Linked DNA regions of Homo sapiens: region 1 is reported to be linked to region 2. The links are microRNA targets in miRTarBase. Many come from high-throughput screens and were not tested one by one. Region 2 holds a microRNA gene; the other region holds the end of a gene's coding sequence.

Region 1 (3,268 bases), not on the chromosome of region 2:
TGCAGAAGCAGACGCAGTGCACGGTGGACATCTGCCCCTTTTGGGGGCCTGCCACGGTGCTTCCTGAAAACTCAGGTTAAGCTGACTCTGCTGTCAGGCTGATGAGGCGCCTGCACCCACCTTTGCTCAGCACGCCAGCCCAAATGGAAGAGCAGGTGCTATGACAAAAATCAGTTCTTGTAGCAACTATTTTTGATACTGAAACTGAAAAGCGAGAGCAGCAAAGCTATCCACGGAGCTCCTGACAGTTAGGCCCGGCTTTGGCTGCTGATGCAGGGGCCGAATGACGCTATTTCTGCAGCAGCCGGCCGCAGGCGCTGACCCACCGCGGGATGTGCCCCAGGAGGCAGAAGAAACGCTGGGAACCGCACCTAACCTTGCCAGCATCCCCCAGGCAAAGCCAGGCACTTTGAGTTCATCGGTGGAGTTGGGCGATACTCCTTTCCCGTTTGTGTGCTTAGCTGCTGCCAACAGGATGTGCTGGGTGAAGCCTTACAGAACACAGCCAGTTGTGTTTTATAAAGCAAGGCTCCCCTCCCCCAAAGACAAATAAAACCACAGGTGTGGAAGGGACACCCTCCACCGCACCCCGCCCTAGTAATCTGACACCGCAGGCAAAGGCACGGCCTGTGTGGGTAAGATCCATTGTAAACGTTTAAAACTTCCTGTTCCCTGATGCCTCAACTTCCCCGCAGACCGACGCACCTGTGATGGGCAGGGCCGTGTGACCTCGTGACCTTCACATACACCAATGAAGACCCTCACGCCTTCTGCTGTCTTTCCCCCACTGCTGACTTGCCTGCGGGCCCCCACTATCTGCCCTGCCTCTGGAGCCGCCTCCCGTGTGCCCCCCCAGGCCCCTTAAGGTGCTGTGCGTCCCATCTGGAACCGGCAGTTCACCCGCTCTCCCAGCCACCCTTCCAGACCCCACTTACAACACACGACTAAGTAACACAGTACAGGCCGTGTATTCGTATTTGTTTTCCTGTGCCAACTCATCTGGTATCTTCGTATTTTAATGAATAAAACTGAAAGATGACAACTTGAAGCCCCAGTGCATTCCTCTCAAATCGAGTGAAGTTTACAACACCTTAATTATAAAAGATTTATCTGATCCAGAAGAAAGCAGAGTGTACAGAAACTTCACTGTCATCTGCGAATGGACTGAGAGCATCTGGATTTGGTTCTCAGCCTGAATGAGCATCCTGGAATGGTGTGTCTCGTCCATTTACGTGGAGACACATGGAACAGGCCTGCAGGCTTGGGGCTCTGAGCAGGGCTCCCAAAGCCCCTCAGCTGCAAGGAAGCCAGGCCCATGAGAGGGGAGCCTGTTCCAGAAACACAAGAGGATGAAAGCTGTTATTGGCAAAGGAGACTTAGAGCAAGGAAATGACCAGGAATAAAAAAAGATTATATATTTAGAGGCCAGGTGTGGTGGCTCATGCCTGTACTCCCAGCACTTCAAAAGGCCAAGGCGGGTGATCACTTGAGATCAGGAGTTCGAGACCAGCCTGGACAACATGGCAAAACCACATCTCTACTAAAAATATTAATACAAAAAAGCTGGATGTGGTGGTGCACACTTGTAGTCGCAGCTACTCAGGAGGCTGAGGCAAGAAGATTGTGTGAACATGGGAGGTGGAGGCTGCTGTGAGCTGAGAACAACAAACCCCACAAAAACTAACTTCAACAAACATTAAACTTCACTACACACCGAGTCCAGCAGTTCTCCACCCATCTTTCTATTCCATTTCTCTCTCTCTGCCTCAACCTAGGGCAAGATAAGCTTGACCTGATGGGTCATGGCTCTGTACAATAGTTTAGTCTTAAACAACTAAGATGCTACGTATCTAAGAACACTCATGACTCAAAGGCTTGCAAAGGGCTCTTTAAATTTGCTCTTTTAATGCATAAATAAATCCATATCATGTATTACTTTCTGGAAAAGGGTTAAACTCAAATATCCGAAATACTTTCATTATACCAGGTCAAGAAAAATGCCACAGCCAGAAAAATTTATTTTAAAATAGAAACATACATTAAGCTTTAAAACAACCAACTCTCAAACAAAAGAGGAAAGAGCCTTTGATCCCAGAGTCCATGCGGAATGAATTCCATACGTGTTTGAAATTCACATAAGGAGCACTTAGAAAACCACCTGAAATGGAAATCCAACAGCCCCCTTGCCTGTGAGGGCTCCCACCCCTGCCCGCGTGAGGACATGGCCGAACCCCGGACACTCGTGTGCCGGGAGCCACCACAGCTCAAGGTGACCGGCAGCACCCAGCTCTGTGACCAAGACAGATGTTCACACGTGGGGGCATCGTAAGCGCTACCAGCTCCAAATCTGACGTGATGGGAACTTGGGAGATGTCTGAGAAATGTCCGAAGGGATTTTGGCAACACAGAAAACGCAATGTCTAGGAATTCCTCCAAATGCTTCCAAAAATACTCATTGACAATTCAAGTTGCACTTGGCTGGCGGCAGCCCGGGCGGCCTTCAGTCCGTGTGGGGCGCCCGCGTGGCCTTCTCCTCGTAGGACTCCCCAAACTCGTTCACTCTGCGTTTATCCACAGGATAAAGCCTGCAATGACACAAATGAGCACATCAGCAAACCCCACTGCAGGGGCTATTTTTCTAAGAGGAGGACTTGGCATCCTCGATTTATTTTCCAGTGAGCTGCCACAGTGAGCAAATTAACTAAAAAGTCGAATCCTCAGAAGTTTTACTGCCGAGGGCTGAGGAGGGATTTCTGAGTTGTGTTTTGTTCTGCATGGCCAGGCCAGCGTGCTGCTCTCAAGGAAAGGGAAGCTTGGCCGAAGGGACGACCCGGAGGCTGCACGGGCTGCCATGGCTGAAGGGGGGACCCGGAGGCTGCACGGGCTGCCTTCTGGGAACGGTGGCATCACGGAGACTCGAGTGATCAGAACAGGAACCGCTGTGTTCAGGGACCACGTCTCATCAGCTGTGAACACTTGGCAGGACACTGCCGCCGCCTTTGATCCTGAGCGCCCCGGAGGCCTTGCCAACATCACCCCTACGTATGGATGAGGAAGCTGTGGCATAAGGGGCAGCTCTACACGGCCGCGAACAGAAGTACAGGGTTTCAGCTTAAAAACAGACCTGCTGCCCACCAAGGGCCCTGTGATCCTGGCCAAACACCGTTTGCAGGTCTGGAGCCATTAACACAGAGCCTGAGTACAGCACAGTTTCAGGCACGCCCCGGGCCACCTGCGAGGACTTGGGAGCCACTTGAAGGGCTCACAG
Region 2 (3,268 bases):
CACTGGGCGCTCCCACGGCCCCAAGCTCTGAAGCCAGATCCTGAGAGGTGGCCACAATGGCATTTGCTGAGCAACAGAGGAGGCACTGGCCAGTGGTGGATGCTCTCCCGGGAACTCCACTCCCCCCACCTGGGTGGCCAGGGGACCTTGCTGTCCTGCTGCTGGCCCTCTTCTGGAACAGCCCTCCACAGTCACCTCCTGTCTCCTCACATCAACCCCCTATGTGTGCAGGTCGGGCTCAGAGAGGGCAGGTGACTGGCCCAAGGCCACCCTAGCAGGCCTCAAACCCAGGCCTGTCTGACCCATCTCCCAGGACTCCCCGCAGCTCTCTAAACACTGGGTGAGGAGGTGGGGACTGGAGGGGGACCCTCCACCCCAGAGGACACAGCAGGCCAGGCAGCACCAGGCAGAAGACCCCGGCCCCTGGCTGGAGGTGGGGACAGATTCGACCCTTTGCTGAGTCCCTCCCAGGGCCGCCCGGGGCTTCACACGCAGATTGACGCGCACACCTCTCCTGTGGGCGCTAGCTACCACGAGGTTCCAGGGAGGCTCCGGCGAAGGCACCTGTCATCATGGGCGCCGCTTCTCCTCTACCTGGGTGTAGTCTGCAAACTTCCTCCCCACCCCCAGTTCCTGTGCCTCGAGGTCCTTCACGAGTTTAGCGCGCACTCGTAGGAGCCGCGCAGCGCTCCCTAAGGCCTCAGTGAGTGGAGACGCTCCGGGGAGCCGGCAGCGGGAACCATCGGCCGCCCAGCAGGGTGCGGCTGCCGGCAGCCTGATGGGCAGCTCCCAGGAAGCCCAGGGCAAGGAGCGCTCCTCAACCCTACGGGCCCACCGCCAGTTCCTCGCTGGGAATTCCACGGAGTTTCGAGGTGCGGGCCCTCGGGGTGCAAGAGGGCGGCGGCGGCGTCTCCAGGCCGGCAGCGCGCCAGGAGCGTGGGCAACCCAGCGCGCCCCCACCCAGCGGTTCCCACAGCACAGCCCGGCCACGCCCGGCCACCTCCCAGCAGCACTTGGCTCTCCGGCCGAGGGTCTTCCCTGGCAGCAGGTGGAGCCAGCCAGGCCCTGGGGACTGCGGGGCGCGGCGCATGGGGCGGCCGACCTGGAGCGCGGAGCCGGTCCGTGGGCTCCCCTGGATTGGTCGCCGGCGCACCCCTGACTGTGACTCTGACTCCAGGCCGCGCGTGGGACGCTCCGTCGCTGTCGCCGCGCCCGCCGGGTCTAGTGGTCCTAAACATTTCACAATTGCGCTACAGAACTGTTGAACTGTTAAGAACCACTGGACCCAGCGCGCGAGTCCCCAACACCGTCGGTTCGCCGAGCTGCGGAGAGAGGAGCCCCCGACGCCCTTGGGACCGCCCGCGTCGCCTGCGGATCCCGGGGACCGGCCCCTGCGCCCAGATCCCCGCTGGTCGCGCACCCCCTGCCCTGCTGCAGCCACCCGGCCCCGACGCCGTACCGGACGCCTTAGACGCCCTCGCCTGGCGCTGGGGGATCCCAGCCGCCAAGCCCAGCCCCGCCGCGTCCTCGCTGGCCCCGGCGTCCCCTCGTCCCGCGGGCCCCGCGTGGCAGGGCGGCTGAGCTCCGAGCGGCGGTGGCCAGCGCGGCGGCGCCTTTTATGCGGCGCAGCCGCCCTTCCCGGCGCCGGAATGTGCCCGCGCCGCGCTGGCCCGACCGGTTTTTCCGGGCGGGGCGGCTCCCGGGCCCATAGGTCCCGCGACTGATCCTCCACGGCCCGGGGACCTGCTCCGCGCGCCCGCGCGGGGGTGGCCCTGACTCAGCGGCCGCCCCGCCCCATCCGGCGCCCCAGCCTCCAGCGCCTGGCCTGGGCGCACCTGGCCTCCCGGGTTCTGGGTCCCCGCCGGGCCACGCCCGAACCGTCTCGTCTGGGCCGGGGGTGCTCGGGCGCACGGAGGGCCCGGGGCTCCACCTTGGCCGGGTCGAGGCCCAGGGTGGCCGGAACAGGTGAGGACCAGCGCCCGACAGGAGCCCAGGGCCGCGCTAGCTCTCCGGTGGGTGTGGGGGCTGGGCTGGACACACCCACCCCAGCCCCTCTCACTTCAAAGGGAACTTCGTGGGAGGGGGAAGGGGAGGGGTAAAGAGAAAGTGAAACTGGAGGGAGGGAGGTTTCTGCTTCTCAGACCCTGAACCCCCACCCCGCAGCCCACAGGGGTAGCCCCGTACCTGCCTCCTCATTTCCCACGCGGGGGGAGGGACGCCCTACCCCCTCACGCAGCAAGGGCCTGAGCCTCGCTCCCCCCACTCACAGCCCAGCCCCGAACGTCCTGGCGCAGCTGGCCCTGCCGGTCCTACCCACTTAGTCACCTGGAGGTGTCCAGGCCTGACCAGTGGCGCCTCCCAGGGACTCTGCTTCAGCAGAACATGGCAGCTGAGGGGAGGGCTCAGGCTCTAGGAAATACCCTAGAGCCCCCTTCAGCACTTGCCCCAAGTCTGGAGCCATTAGTGTGTCTGTATGGGGTTGGGCAGCAGGGTGGTGACCATTCATTCCAGTGCAGGGCGGTGACACGCCATCCCACCACCCGCCCAGCCAGCCAGGAGCCAAGTGCTCAGGAGCCAAGGTGAGCCCCAGACCAGAACACAGCCACCAGATCTGAGGGACCCCCCAGACATTTCCACATGGGCCGCGTGTGGCTCAACCACCGCAGCCACCCTGGAAAGGGAATCAGAAAGGTTTTGTTATTTTCATTTTGCAGTTGGGGAAACTGAGGCTCAGGGAGGGACAGTGACTTCTGGGGATTGCACAGCTCTTGGTGGTAGAGAAGGGATGACAGGCCTTGCCATCGCTGCATCTGTGGGTCTCAGTGCCTGGGTGTGGAGTCCGAGGGGCTGCGGCATGGGGGTGGGGATGGAAGTGGGCATAGGGGAGCTTGAGATCAAGAACAGGAGCTTGGGAGCTCCTCCCCCAACACAACTGCATGGGCAAGAAGAACCCACCTCTCTTCTTTTCTTTTTTTTTTTCTTTTTTTTTGAGACCTAGTCTTGCTGTGTTGCCCAGGCTGGAGTGCAGTGGTGCGATCTTGGCTCGCTGCAACCTCCATCTTCCCAGTTCAAGCGATTCTCCCACCTCAGCCTCCCAAGTAGCTGGGACCACAGACACAAACCACCACACCTGGCTAATGTTTTTATTTATTTTTTAAGAGACAGAGTTTCGCCATGTTGGCTGTTCTCAAACTCCTAGGCTCAAGCTATCCACCCGCCTCGGCCTCCCAAAGTGCTGGGATTGCAGGTGTGAGCCACCAAGCCTGGC

Evidence for each region. Region 2 holds the annotated microRNA hsa-miR-203a-3p (GUGAAAUGUUUAGGACCACUAG, at 1,222-1,243, opposite strand). A microRNA usually pairs through its seed, bases 2 to 8, with sites in the 3' UTR of a target mRNA and lowers its output. Matches are read on the target gene's strand: a 7mer-m8 pairs with bases 2 to 8, a 7mer-A1 pairs with bases 2 to 7 and ends in A, and an 8mer does both.
Region 1: the mRNA of CLPTM1L is a reported target of hsa-miR-203a-3p. Seed matches in the 3' UTR shown: 7mer-m8 at 2,160-2,166 and 7mer-A1 at 2,125-2,131.

Annotation. Positions count from the first base shown.
Region 1 is chr5:1,315,869-1,319,136 of GRCh38, forward strand. CLPTM1L (CLPTM1 like) reads right to left here. Exons shown (of 17, transcript NM_030782.5): 17 at 1,884-2,585. The coding sequence ends at 2,501. Among named protein-coding and RNA genes, the nearest start is that of MIR4457, 8.1 kb to the left of the region's middle. RefSeq lists enhancers at 48-437, 728-877.
Region 2 is chr14:104,115,444-104,118,711 of GRCh38, reverse strand. It overlaps MIR203A (microRNA 203a), which reads right to left and starts at 1,307; the gene lies at 1,198-1,307. It overlaps MIR203B (microRNA 203b), which reads left to right and starts at 1,209; the gene lies at 1,209-1,294. It overlaps ASPG (asparaginase), which reads right to left. Exons shown (of 16, transcript NM_001080464.3): 16 at 3,130-3,268.